4 linked regions of the Homo sapiens genome follow. The protein of the gene in region 4 purifies or fractionates together with the protein of the main gene of each other region. This does not show direct contact. Each region holds a gene or a part of one and is shown on either strand. Other genes may lie near its edges.

Region 1 (2,844 bases), on a different chromosome or scaffold from region 4:
TTGAATAATTAGGATGGAATGTGTAGGTCACTGCAGGACTTAACACATGCAGACAATAAAAATAAATTATTTGTGCAAAGTTGATCCTGAATTCTCCCAGGATCCAACATTTGGAACATATTTCTGCTTTGCTAAAATGGAACAAAATTCACAAATCTGACCAAATGGGCTGTTTGCCAACTAATCCAGCCCCTACATAAAGCCAGAAAAGGGGAGAGGGGAGGGATCATGTGTATGTGCTAAAATCCAACTCTCTGTAGTCATTTCACAGAGAATGCAGGGCGGCTATGGCAGGGCATTAGAGGCCCTGGGGGATGAAAAAGGCTCATTCAGGCCTGCAGGTGGCCTGCACCTGGGGACAGAGTAAATCTGCAACGGAGTCGCCTCACTTCCTACAGTAGCAGCAATAAAATAGGCTGCCCTGAATGAGTGAACTGAAGAAAAGTTTCTCTGTAAGGAGTGACAGACGACTGGACTCACAGAAGTAGGGGAGGCATGAATGGGATAAAATTTTTGAATTTATGTTCAACATGTTTCCTGCAGATTTAGTGGAGGAAAAATCCACACATACCCCCATCCCAATCCCCCAGATTTTCTTCAACATGCCGCTTCTGTTCTTGGAAGAGTTAACTGCCTCGATTCTGCATAAGAGTCCCAAACACTGAGAACTAGGGTGTCTTCCCCTTCCTTTCCTTCCAAAAAGGCCAGCAGCCTCAAGCAAGCCAAAGTCCTTTCCTCTTGAATGCGTAGTCTTGTGAACTCCACTGTCTTCACAAACTCAGCAGCTGGTGGAAGCTCTCTGAAGAACTGAGACAGGAGGTGGCACTGCTCTGACACCATCCTTTGAAGGTGACAGAGCATCTCAGGGCTTGGGGGACGCCAGCCGGACTTTGAGAGGAGACAGAAGAGGTGCTTGCAGAGGTATTTCACAAAGATCAGGGTCTCGGCCCAAAAGTTGACTTCTGCTTTTTCAAACAGGTAGTCTTCTTCCACCTAAATCAGATGAAAAAGCCGAAAGTCAGTCTTACAGGGAATGGTGACAAGCCCCAGTCCAGACCAAGCAGTACCCTGCCAGATGCAAGAGGGGTTTCCCTTCCCCCACCTGACAGAGGGTGCACTCTTGCCTGTCAACATCCATGTACACACACCACTTGCAGCCTTGAAGGTCACCTTCTATTTTCACTCACTGTATTTCTCCACCAGAGAGGAATTTTTTCCCCAGACTTAACATGACCTTGGATAAAGATGTGTTTGTGGTTCAAAGTCAAGATACTTTGGGGGATGGATGCTGAAAAGGGGACTTCAACAAGGGAGTGGGCTCTAGAGTTTAAGGTGCAGCTGGAAATTGGAGAGGAGGGAGGAAAGGTCATCTCTGCAGCAGGCCAGAGAGGAAGGAATCTCCAAACACAGGACACTAGGCTGTGTCCTGTTTCTATAACACTGTGATTCTCAAGGTCCTTTTGTCAGACACTTACCATGTCTCCAAATTTCTCATAAAGAGGGACAATGCGTTTTGAACCCTTGGCCTGCTGGGGATGCCAAGAAGGCCAGCTGAGTCAGATGCTGGTGGCGATCAATTTCAGTTCTCAGGATGCTTTTGCTGCTTGTCTTTGTCCTCAGTTTCCCTATCTGTGACTGCACCCACCCTGGAGGGGGCTAATAATAGTTTTCTTCAAGCAGGAAGTTCCCAGCAAAGATCCTAATTCTCTGAAAATGCTTCACCCTCAGACCTAACTTTGGGAAGCCCCAGGCTAACTCCAATACTGACTAACAAGCAGTCTCCATAATAAAACTCTCCGCATCCAGGGGCTTCTTTTTTTCTTTTCTTTTCTTTTCTTTTTTTTTTGAGATGGAGTCTTGCTCTGTTGCCCAGGCTGGAGTGCAGTGGTGCAATCTCGGCTCACTGCAACCTCCGCCTCCCAGGTTCACGCCATTCTCCTGCCTCAGCCTCCCGAGTAGCTGGGACTACAGGCACCCACCACCATGCCCGGCTAATTTTTTGTATTTTTAGTAGAGACGGGGTTTCACCGTGTTAGCCAGGATGGTCTCGATCTCCTGACCTCATGATCCGCCTGCCTTGGCCTCCCAAAGTGCTGGGATTACAAGCATGAGCCGCTGTGCCCGGCCAGGGGCTTCTTTCCGAGTTCTCTCCCCTGGCTAAGCTGGAGGCTGACCATCAGCACCCCAGAAGTCAGCCTAAGAGTGTCCCCGTGTCCTCGGCAGCACCCAGTGGGTGACTTTCCTAGTGGTTCCTGCTCTGTGTCTAAGCATGCAAAAGCCCAGCTGAGGCTGTAGGTGCTGCATCTAGCGGGTTTAGGACACTCCAACCCTGCCTCCTACTCCCCTGACACCCCGGGATCACCTGATGCATGCTCTCCACACAGGCCACGAGGTCATCACTCTCTCCCAACAGCCATCCCAGCAGGATGGGCAGTCCAGGGGCCAACTGGTCCCACTGCTGGAGCAGATCACACAGGACGGCCAGGGCCAGGGCCAGAGCGATGGAGGCATCCACCTGGCAGAAGGCAAACTCTGCAAAGACAGGAGAAAGGTGAGCAATGAATATACTGCTCAGGGCCGACCCCAGGGCAGCCTGCAGGACCCTGGGAACAATAAAGGCCTCAGGTAAAATCGCTGCCACCAGCCTGGCAGGGAAGCTGGTAGGGTGGGCTCACTGGAGACGATTAATCACCTTCTGAATCCTGCTATTTATACTGTTAGAATGAGTCATAGGCCTGAACCCACTGTTTCCATGCCCCCTAACTCAGTGTGGACAGAAGCAGTTCCATCTGCAGGATTAGAGAGTTATCTCCCCTCTGCTCCTCCAGTGTCACCAGAAGGATC
Region 2 (2,643 bases), on a different chromosome or scaffold from region 4:
TCTACTGAGGATTAATCCCTGGAACAACTCTCTGAATAAAATAAAATAAAAGCTGGCTGCATGGTCAATTACCTTGGTAAACCTCTCGTGGAGATAAACAATATGCAATAATTTCTAAAAAACCTTGCAGTAGAAAAACCTGTTTCAAATTTCTGATTTTATGAACTTCAAAACTAAAATTACATTGAATTTCTGGCCTTTGCCATGAATTCATTTCTGCATGGCCAGGATTCCTGACAGCCCCTTTAGTTTTAAAGGTAATCCACACCTAAAGGAGTCAGAGGTGGATTCAGATAACTAAAGCACCGCTCCTGAGACCTGAGCGGTGACATTGCCTTTGCTTCTATACCAAAAGTCACACAAAGTCTACTTTCCTGGTTTCACTGATTAAATAATTCATATGCTGTACTATATTAAATCAAATTCTACCAACCCTCAACCCCCAAATCCAGCAAGTAAACTGTCCCTTCATAAACTACTCAAGAAATAACGAATGCATCTGAAAGATAATTGCTTTTAATTTTCTAAATTTTCACTTATGCAACATAAAGGCAGATTTATGTGACCTGATAATGACATTTTTACAAAAAACAATCCCCCCCACCCCAACATCTTGGTCAGTAGTATATAAATATTTACAATGAAAAAATAGGCAAGGAAAAAGGAAATCTTCATTATCCATGTCGATTTCTTTCCAATGCTTATCAGGAACTTTGAAAATAAAATACTCCATTAACTTTCTCGTCACTCCTATTTACACGCTGCTTTAGCTGATGCATTCGCGGTATTTGGGTTGCACTGTATAAGAGTATTTTTGTTCTCTATCACTCCTACTTTTTTCTATACTATTTTAAAAATCTGAAATAGTAAATTAAATATAAAAATGTAAACTCTGAAAGGAGAGAAAATAAGAATAAATATGTGTAAAGGTAATGCATTAAGATACAAAGGATCTCACAGAGGTTAATATTTTACAACACTAAAAAAAAATAAAATGCTCTATATATTTTCTTAGTTGGGACATTTTGTTTCAATTTAATTTTTGGTTATGTTAACAAAAATTACCTCTAAAGAGGATGTTAAAAAAATAGCAATGACGTTACCATCTTAACTAATGAATATCCTATCACCCTAATTTTTTCTAAAAGAAATGGATTTTTTAAAGTGACAAATATAAATTATAACATAGAAAGCTTAAGAAGCCTCAGCAAATTATGGTATCTTTTAGCGATGAAGACTTTTAGAGACAAATGTGAACAGTGCAGCCAGCCTACTTGACTTAGGGATTTACAAATGCATTCGACTCCGACATGTGAAACACGACGTGGCTTCTCCCACACGCCGCTCCGCTGAAACATGGCGCACTCGTGGGCGGAAGGGCAGGACACCTGCAGCATGCAGTTCCTGCAGGACGTCAATGGGAATTTCGTGTCTAGCAGTGCAACGAACATCACCCGCAGCTCCCTGGGAGGACCGCGAGCTTCACGTGTGGGAGCTGCGCCGCCCCCTGGTACCCAGAGACACACGGAGCCTGGGCTCCCTGGCTTTGTAATGCTCGTTGAAGTCCAGCCTGAAGCTAAGAAACCGAAGACTCTCGTCAGAGCTGGTCGTCAGTAACACCAAAAACTGCTGCACGATACCCTAAAAAGAAGCAAAAGGAGTAAAATATTGTTTCAGAAAAGAACAACCCACAAACGTATTCCCCGGACCTTAATCTCCTTTGGGTTGGGTCTGTTTTTCCTTCCAGATCAACAGGCCCTTAGTAAATGCCCACCAGGGCAGGTGTCCAGGGAGCAAGAGCTGCTGGGACCCTGGAGTGCACACGGCCAGTGCACCTGCATTAGGAATGGGCGCCCTTTTACAAGGACAAATTAGTGAAGAATACATTTGATTTGAAAACAACTAACCAACAGGTTTTTTCACTTTGTTCTTAAGTTCCACAAGAATAAGCAAAACAGCAAAGTAACAGATGTTAGAACATTCTATTTTGAATACAAAACTCAGTGCCACATATTTCATCTTTCATATGACTCATGAAAGAGGATTTCATCCTAGAGCCCTTGCTGGAGAACAAATTGAGAGCATCAGTCGGGTCTTTGGGTCTAGCTGCTGGACGTGAGGCTGCAGCCGCCCTCTTCATGGGCACTGGCATCGCCATCATCCTGTTACTGAGGGCGTTTTTAAAGATGTGACAGAAGTTTCCCCTAACTCTGATAAGACGAAAGGACTGGCTGCTTCTATTTCAGGCTGAAAGACTTGCATACTGAGTACAGGCCCATCCCCGCCCAGTGCTGGAGCCTGCTGCATGCCACGGGGTGCTGATCTGTTCACAGAACTGCTGGCCTGGAAAGGCCTCATCTGCAGAGAAAACTCACTGAGGCACTGCGTCCTCACCAAGCCCCGCCCAAGTCTTCACCAGCTGTCACTGCCCCTTCCCAGCTTCTGGTCAGAAACACGAATGCTGAAGCTCACAGGCAGGCCTGGGCACAGGCTCTGCTGTGTTGATAAAGTAACTTCACCTCTGAGCAGGCAAACACTGTGTATGTGTGTGTGTGTGTGTGTGTGTGTGTGTCTGTGTGTGTGTGTGTGTGTATCACTGCCTTTTTAGGTGAGGGAAGAAGAACACGCCTAAGAAGTTATATT
Region 3 (3,500 bases), on a different chromosome or scaffold from region 4:
AGCAAAGCCATCACCTCTTCTTCCATGGAATACAACTATGGATTATTCCAAACAATTGAGCCCAACTACCCAGGCTGTTCCAGCTTCTGAGCTCAAGGATTTGCTGCTCAATTTAAAATTAAACAAATGTCTCTGGCAAATCCTCAGCTGGGCTGTGAGAAGCACAGATCGGAACGCCAGGCAGGGCTGATGGGGAACAGGCTGTCAGTGCCCCCTGAGGACGTGCGATCTGTGCAGGTACCCTGGGGACTGGATGGGATGGTGGACGTGCGACCACGCTCCTCAGGGGTGGGATGACGTGGACCCCACATCTACCCCCAGCAGCATGGGCCAGAGGGTCCCGGCCATGGACGCCTCCTGAGTCATCAAACACGTGAACTGTGGTGTGTGGCCAAGAAAGGGGCAGCAACGAATGTAAACGTGAGCGGCCGCCTGCAGCTGGGGCTGGGGCTGGGGCTGGAGCTCTGCACAGCCCAGGACGAGGCCCCGGAACAAGGGCTATCAGCGAGGGCACTCCGGTTACTGCAGGTGTTTCCGATGGCCCGGCCTGGCGGCACGGGGCGGACCCACAGACACGTCGCTGGGTGCTTCCGACAGCCCAGCCTGGCGGCACAGGGCAACCCACAGACATGTCATTACGATGGCTGACGGCCGGGCAGGGGAGGCTCCTCCTCTCCACTCCCGCATCTCCCAAGTGCTCTTACGTTTTCAGATGCCTGGCAGATGTGGGCCTGTGCCAGCTCTGTGGCGATGGCTGCCAGGTGCGGCTGGAGGGCTTCTCGGGGGCAACCCCGCATGGCGGAGGCCAGCACCAGGAGGCCGGAGGCAGAGGGCGTCTTCTTCAGCGTCGATAAGATCAGCTTCAGAAACACCTCAGGGCTGACAAACGTCCCGACGAGCTCTGCGGATCTGGTACACTGCGAGAAAGAAACATGAGAAAACTCAGAGCCAAACCCGAGGGTCTCAGCCGGGCTCCTGCTCTCGGCGCCGTGGCCTCCCAGACACAGCCGTGCACCAGACAGAGCCCCGTGTTAGGCAGAGTGAGTCCTTGGCACATGCTCAGAGCCCTCAGGAAAGGTACAAGGGTCCGGGTGTGGTCTCAGAACGTCCCTGAGGCCAGCGAGCCGGACACGCCTCCCAGGCAGTGAAGTCTGGCCCAAAGGATGCTGTGTCCCAGCTGTGGGGTTCACCACACACCCCTCATCGGACACCAGTGACCCAACCTTCCCATCACTAAGCTGATCAATACACACCAGCCCCTCTGTACCGTGGAAGCCCACAGTGGATCACACACTCACCAGCCCCTCTGCACCGTGGGATTCCACAGTGGACACCACACACCAGCCCCTCTGCACCGTGGGATTCCACAGCGGATCACACACACACCAGCCCCTCTGCACTGTGGGATTCCACAGCGGATCACACACACACCAGCCCCTCTGCACCATGGGATTCCACAGTGGACACCACACACCAGCCCCTCTGCACCATGGGATTCCACAGCGGATCACACACACACCAGCCCCTCTGCACCGTGGGATTCCACAGCGGATCACACACACACCAGCCCCTCTGCACCATGGGATTCCACAGTGGATCACACACACACCAGCCCCTCTGCACCGTGGGATTCCACAGCGGATCACACATACACCAGCCCCTCTGCACCGTGGGATTTCACACCGGATCACACACACCAGCCCCTCTGCACTGTGGGATTCCACAGTGGATCACACACACACCAGCCCCTCTGCACCGTGGGATTCCACAGCGGATCCCACACACGTCTCTCGTCCTCTCAGCCTCACCCCCGTGTCTCTTGCTCTCCTGTAGGTTCCACAGAGAACTACAGACAATTTTAAATTCACGGTAGTTTTTGAAAAGCAGAAACATGACATGTAAATAACATGGAACCTGGAACATTTACTTTAAATCAGTCACAATGATTTAGATTTTTTTGTTTTATCTGAGACAGCGTCTCATTCCGTCGCCCAGGCTGGAGAGTAGTGGCGCAATCATAGCTCACTGAGGCCTCAAACTCCCGGGCTCAAGCGATCCTCCCACCTCAGCCTCCCGGGAGCTGGAACCACAGGTGCACGCCACTACGCTGGGCTAGTAACAGTGACCTGGACCACTAGAAGTAAAAGCTGCTGGCCAGGCTACCTTGCAATGGAATTTAAGGTTCAAGATGAGGATATTTTCAACTGAAATCTCAAGTCAAAGCTTTAGTTGTTCTCCTGAGCACTAGGAAGCATCCTTGTGAGGTGGGTGTGAAGTCCTCATGGTGGTGACTGTCAGCGCAGGGCGTGGCCCGGCCTAGTGAGGAGGAGAGGCCTGAGCATGGGACTCCCTCGTGCGTACCCAGTGGTGACGAGGCGATAACCAGCAGCCGAGTGTGGACAGGGAGTGAGAAAGAGGACTGCACCAGGGACACCACTCGCAGGACACCCGAAGCTGTGCCATCATCCCCCGTCTGGGTGCTCCCACAGCCCCTGCGAGGCCTGGAAGGGCCCTCAGGACAGTCCAGATGTCAATGCTGAACGCTGGGCATCTCGGTCCTGTGTCAGCAGCCCGGGCCCTGTCTGTCTGGTGCACGGCACGTCTACACAACACGTCTACACAACATGCACCTGGCACTGCACCCCCGAGTGTGCTTGAAAATGAGCATGAAGGGTTCACCCTCAACACGCTGTTACCTACGGGCACAGAAAGGAGATCAGTTGTTCCCAGGGGCTGGGTGTGGGGAGGGCCTGCGGCCCGGGGGTGAGGGGAACGCTGTCTTGGCTACAGTACAGCCTCGGGCCCCGCACACCACAGAGGCGGGATCTTAAGCTCGAGTTACAGCTCCGCGACCACGACTGGAATACGGCCACTTACACTTTGGACCACGGCTGCCTCCTCGTCGGTGCAGGCCTGGAACAGGGTCCGGAGGACGACCTCCAGGTGCTGCGTGGCGTGGTCCTCGGCATGCAGCAGCAGCACTGGGAGCAGCTGTGCCGACTTCACTCGGGTCCCCACCACCCAGTCGGTGATGTCGTGGCACAGGGCAGGGAGGATCTTGGAGAGGTTCCTGAAGACGAGCTCCCGGCAGCCCAGCACAGGGCGGCGCTCTGGAACGAAAAAGGGAAAGAAGAATGAGAAATTCACAAGCAAAACCTCAACAACTCAAGTTACCGCACATCACATTTAAGGGACACCTGTGAGTTTCAACCTCACCATTTCAAAACAAGTCTTGGGGTGGACGCAAAGCTGACAAATGCCCCGTCGTTCAGAACATTCACAGAGGCGGTGCACGGCTGCAGTCCTAGCCCTGTGGAGGCCAAGGCAGGTGGATCACTAGAGCCCAGGAAGTCAAGACCAGCCTGGGCAACATGGCAAAGACCCCATCTCTATAAAAAACAGGAAGATTAGCCAGGTGCCGTGGTGCATGCCTGTGGTCCCAGCTACGCAGGAGTCTGAGGTGGGAGGATTGCGCCACAGCACTCCAGCCTGGGTGACAG
Region 4 (3,500 bases):
CTCTACAAACTGACTACAAATCACTGAATTGGGCCAGGTGTGGTGACTTACACCTGTAATCCCAGCACGTTGGGAGGCCGAGGGAGGAGGATGACTTAAAATCAGGAGTTCAAGAGCAGCCTGGCTAACATGGTAAAACCCCATCTTTACCAAAAATACAAAATTAGGGCCAGGCGCTGTGGCTCACGCCTGTAATCTCAGCACTTTGGGAGGCTGAGGCGGGCGGATCACGAGCTCAGGAGTTCGAGACCACCCTGACCAACATGGTGAAACCCGGTCTCTACTAAAAATACAAATATTAGCTGGGCGTGGTGCTGCACGCCTGTAATCCCAGCTATTTGGGAGGCTGAGGCGGGAGAATCGCTTGAACTCCGGAGGCAGAAGTAGCGGTGAGCTGAGATTGTGCCAGTGCACTCCAGCCTGGGCAACAAGAGCGAAACTCCATCTCAAAAATAAAAAGGCTGGTCTATCGCTCCCTAAAACTCCGGGAAAACCTTGGACATAGAACTGGCAGCCTCTTGGGATTGATTCACTGTTTAAAGGCCACTTCTAGACTCGCAGACACAGTTCTGCCCCCTCCGCCCCATCCCCTGGGAAGAGCTGCTTTGGACCCCACTGGGCGGGGAAGCCGAGGCTCACCAGCGGCACTGTAGTCTATCCTCCACATTCGCTGTGACGCCGGCCGGTCTGGACACGGGATGACGAATGAGACGACGAACACCACAAAAAGGCAGAGAAACAATGAAAGAAAAAACGCCGCCGCTCGGCACCGGGAGAGCCGGGACTGTGGAGGCGCGCTTTTCACGTTATCCTCATTTTTTGATGGATTTCCCAGATTTTCCTGCGATTTTCTTTCTTCATTTTTCAAGGGGTGGATTTCGGCCTCTAAGTCCTTGTGGTCCAACATCACGGGCACATCCCAAAGTTTAACTCCTGGTCACTGTGTCGATAAAGCAAGAGGTCGGCGAGGCCAGCAGTCCCACGGCACAAAGCTGCAGCACAGAGGGGTCTGCTGGCGTCGGCTTCTTGGGGACTGGCTGCAGCTCTAACTATGGGCCACCAGCCCAGGAAATAAAAGCTAAATAAATGTTTAGGGTGTCAGTCTTAACAGATTATACTTAAGAAGGTCTCTAATTAGTGTGGAAAGGCGAGTTAGCTGTGGAGAGCCAGCAGGCAGGAACTATTTTCATCCAGAACACGCTGGTGCTTCCTGCCTGCCGAACCCAGGAAATGCTCAATGAGCTCCAGGGCAGTGTTAACTAAGCCCCACCTACTCAGCCTCTGAGCATATCTGAGCCACCTTCCACCAGCCTCAAGCACAGATGGAAAAGGTGACCCAGGTGCGCACACATGGACTCCCTGGAGGGCCACAGACCCAAAATTCAAAGTACCCGGAGTGAAGATGGGCTCTGGGCGGGCAGGCTTGCACCTCCCTAGCTGTGTGACCAGGACATGTGCTTTGACTGAACTGTGCCTCAGTTTCCTTATCTGTAAAACAAACAATATCTACTTTAGAAGCCTGTTCTAAGGATTAAATAATTAAATGTAGCCGGGCGTGGTGGCTCACACCTGTAATCCCAGTACTTTGGCAGGCCGAGGCGTGCGGATCACGAGGTCAGGAGATCAAGACCATCCTGGCTAACTCGGTGAAACCCCATCTCTACTAAAAATACAAAAAATTAGCAGGGCACGGTGGCGGGCACCTGTAGTCCCAGCTACTTGGGAGGCTGAGGCTGGAGAATGGCGTGAACCCGGGAGGCGGAGCTTGCAGTGAGCCGAGATCACGCCAGTGCACTCCAGCCTGGGCGACAGAGTGACACTCCGTCTCAAAAAAAAAAATTAAATGCATATAAAGTACTTATAAGATCATATGATACACAGTAAACATTCAAACACTACCTAATTATTATTAATAAAATATGTTCATGGATAAGCACAGACTAACTAGAAAAAAATAAAATAAAATATATTCAAACAGAAGTCCGCAGGGGAGGACAGGGGACAGCTGTGTTGAGTGAGCTCGGTGCTGGGAGTAACTTCTGAGCCCCAATTCTGAGGGGAAAAACATGCCCTCTCCTTCCCCTGGTTCCTGCTGGCCGGACCGGGGGTGGATGCGGTGGGGAAACCGGCAGTCGCCGTCTTAGAAACCAAAACGGAAAACACATTTGAACATGGGAAAGGCACAGGGCCCCTGATATCTGCCAACCACCACCACCCAGCCTGAGCTGCTTCGACTGTATAAAACGAGAAAAAAACAAACTTCCATTTTGTCTCAGGCAAGATTTTTGTTATTTTGGTTCCTTTTAAACAACCAAACCGATGTCCTAACACATCATACTGAGAGACTGGACGTGATCATGCAGATTTGAGGTAAAACCTTCACCTACCCAAAAAGGAAGTCAACAGTTCACAGCAAAGGGAGGGGTGAAAGATGAAAGAGGGCGTGCGGAGGTCAGCGAGGGAAGGCGAGGAAAAGCTGAGCTGAAAGCCGCACCCTCTGGGGAAGGGTCAGGAAGACAGAGAGATAAGGGACTGCTGGCTTTTGTTTTAAACTGTTCACTCGGACTTTGTCTTTGCCTAATTATATAATAAAAGTAACTCACTTAATAACCTGTGTATGACACTAGAATGGCTTTAATTTTAAAAGGGAAAAACGACGAGTCTGGGTGAGGATGTGGAGAAATCAGAACATCGTACGTTGCTGGTGGGACTGTAAAATGATGCCGCTGCTGTGAAACACAGTCTGGCAGATCCTCAAAAAGTTAAACACAGAACTACCATACTCTCCAGCAAGTCCAGTCCTAGGTGTACACCCACAAGAATTAAAAACAGACTTTCCGGCCGGGCACGGTGGCTCACGGCTGTAATCCCAGCACTTTTGAGAGGCCGAGGCAGGCAGATCACAAGGTCAAGAGATTGAGACCATCCTGGACAACATGGTGAAAACCGCATCTCTACTAAAAATACAAAAATTAGCTGGGCATGGTGGCGGGCGCCTGTAGTCCCAGCTACTCGGGAGGCTGAGGCAGGAGAATGGCTTGAACCTGGGAGGCAGAGGTTGTAGTGAGCCAAGATCGCGCCACTGCACTCCAGCCTGGGCGACAGTGAGACTCTGTCTCAAAAAAAAAAAAAAAACAAAAAACAGAAAAACAGAGACATGGCCAGCACGGTGGCTCATGCCTGTAATGCCAGTACTTTGGGAGGCCAAAGCAGGAGGATCCCTTGAGGATTGCTCGAGGCTGCAGTGAGCTCTGATCATGCCACCGCACTCTAGCCTGGGCAACAGAGAGACCCATCTCTTTTTTTTTTTTTTTTTTTGAGACGGAGTCTCATTCTGTCGCCCAGGCTAGAGTGCAGTGGCATGATCTTGGCTCACTGTAAGCTCTGCCTCCCCCGTTCACACCATTCTCCTGCCTCAGCCTCCCGAATAGCTGGGACTATGGGCGTCCGCCACCATGCCTGGCTAATTTTTTGTATTTTTAGTAGAGATGGGGTTTCAC

Evidence for each region.
Region 1: the proteins of FAM234A (region 4) and THADA purify together in Homo sapiens (affinity purification with mass spectrometry; one large-scale study listed by BioGRID and IntAct). This does not show direct contact.
Region 2: the proteins of FAM234A (region 4) and TUBGCP3 purify together in Homo sapiens (affinity purification with mass spectrometry; one large-scale study listed by BioGRID and IntAct). This does not show direct contact.
Region 3: the proteins of FAM234A (region 4) and DNAAF5 purify together in Homo sapiens (affinity purification with mass spectrometry; one large-scale study listed by BioGRID and IntAct). This does not show direct contact.

Annotation. Positions count from the first base shown.
Region 1 is NC_000002.12:43,230,351-43,233,194, forward strand, and holds the end of THADA (tRNA (32-2'-O)-methyltransferase regulator THADA), read right to left. Parts: intron 2,533-2,844; coding exon 2,363-2,532; intron 994-2,362; coding exon 598-993; 3' UTR 501-597; downstream 1-500. UniProt on the Homo sapiens protein: Together with methyltransferase FTSJ1, methylates the 2'-O-ribose of nucleotides at position 32 of the anticodon loop of substrate tRNAs.
Region 2 is NC_000013.11:112,484,511-112,487,153, forward strand, and holds the end of TUBGCP3 (gamma-tubulin complex component 3), read right to left. Parts: intron 1,642-2,643; coding exon 1,483-1,641; 3' UTR 501-1,482; downstream 1-500. UniProt on the Homo sapiens protein: Component of the gamma-tubulin ring complex (gTuRC) which mediates microtubule nucleation.
Region 3 is NC_000007.14:754,199-757,698, reverse strand, and holds part of DNAAF5 (dynein axonemal assembly factor 5), read right to left. Parts: intron 3,111-3,500; coding exon 2,878-3,110; intron 918-2,877; coding exon 705-917; intron 1-704. UniProt on the Homo sapiens protein: Cytoplasmic protein involved in the delivery of the dynein machinery to the motile cilium.
Region 4 is NC_000016.10:251,821-255,320, reverse strand, and holds part of FAM234A (protein FAM234A), read right to left. Parts: intron 1,489-3,500; exon of another isoform or gene 1,392-1,488; intron 993-1,391; exon of another isoform or gene 941-992; 5' UTR 908-940; coding exon 640-907; intron 1-639.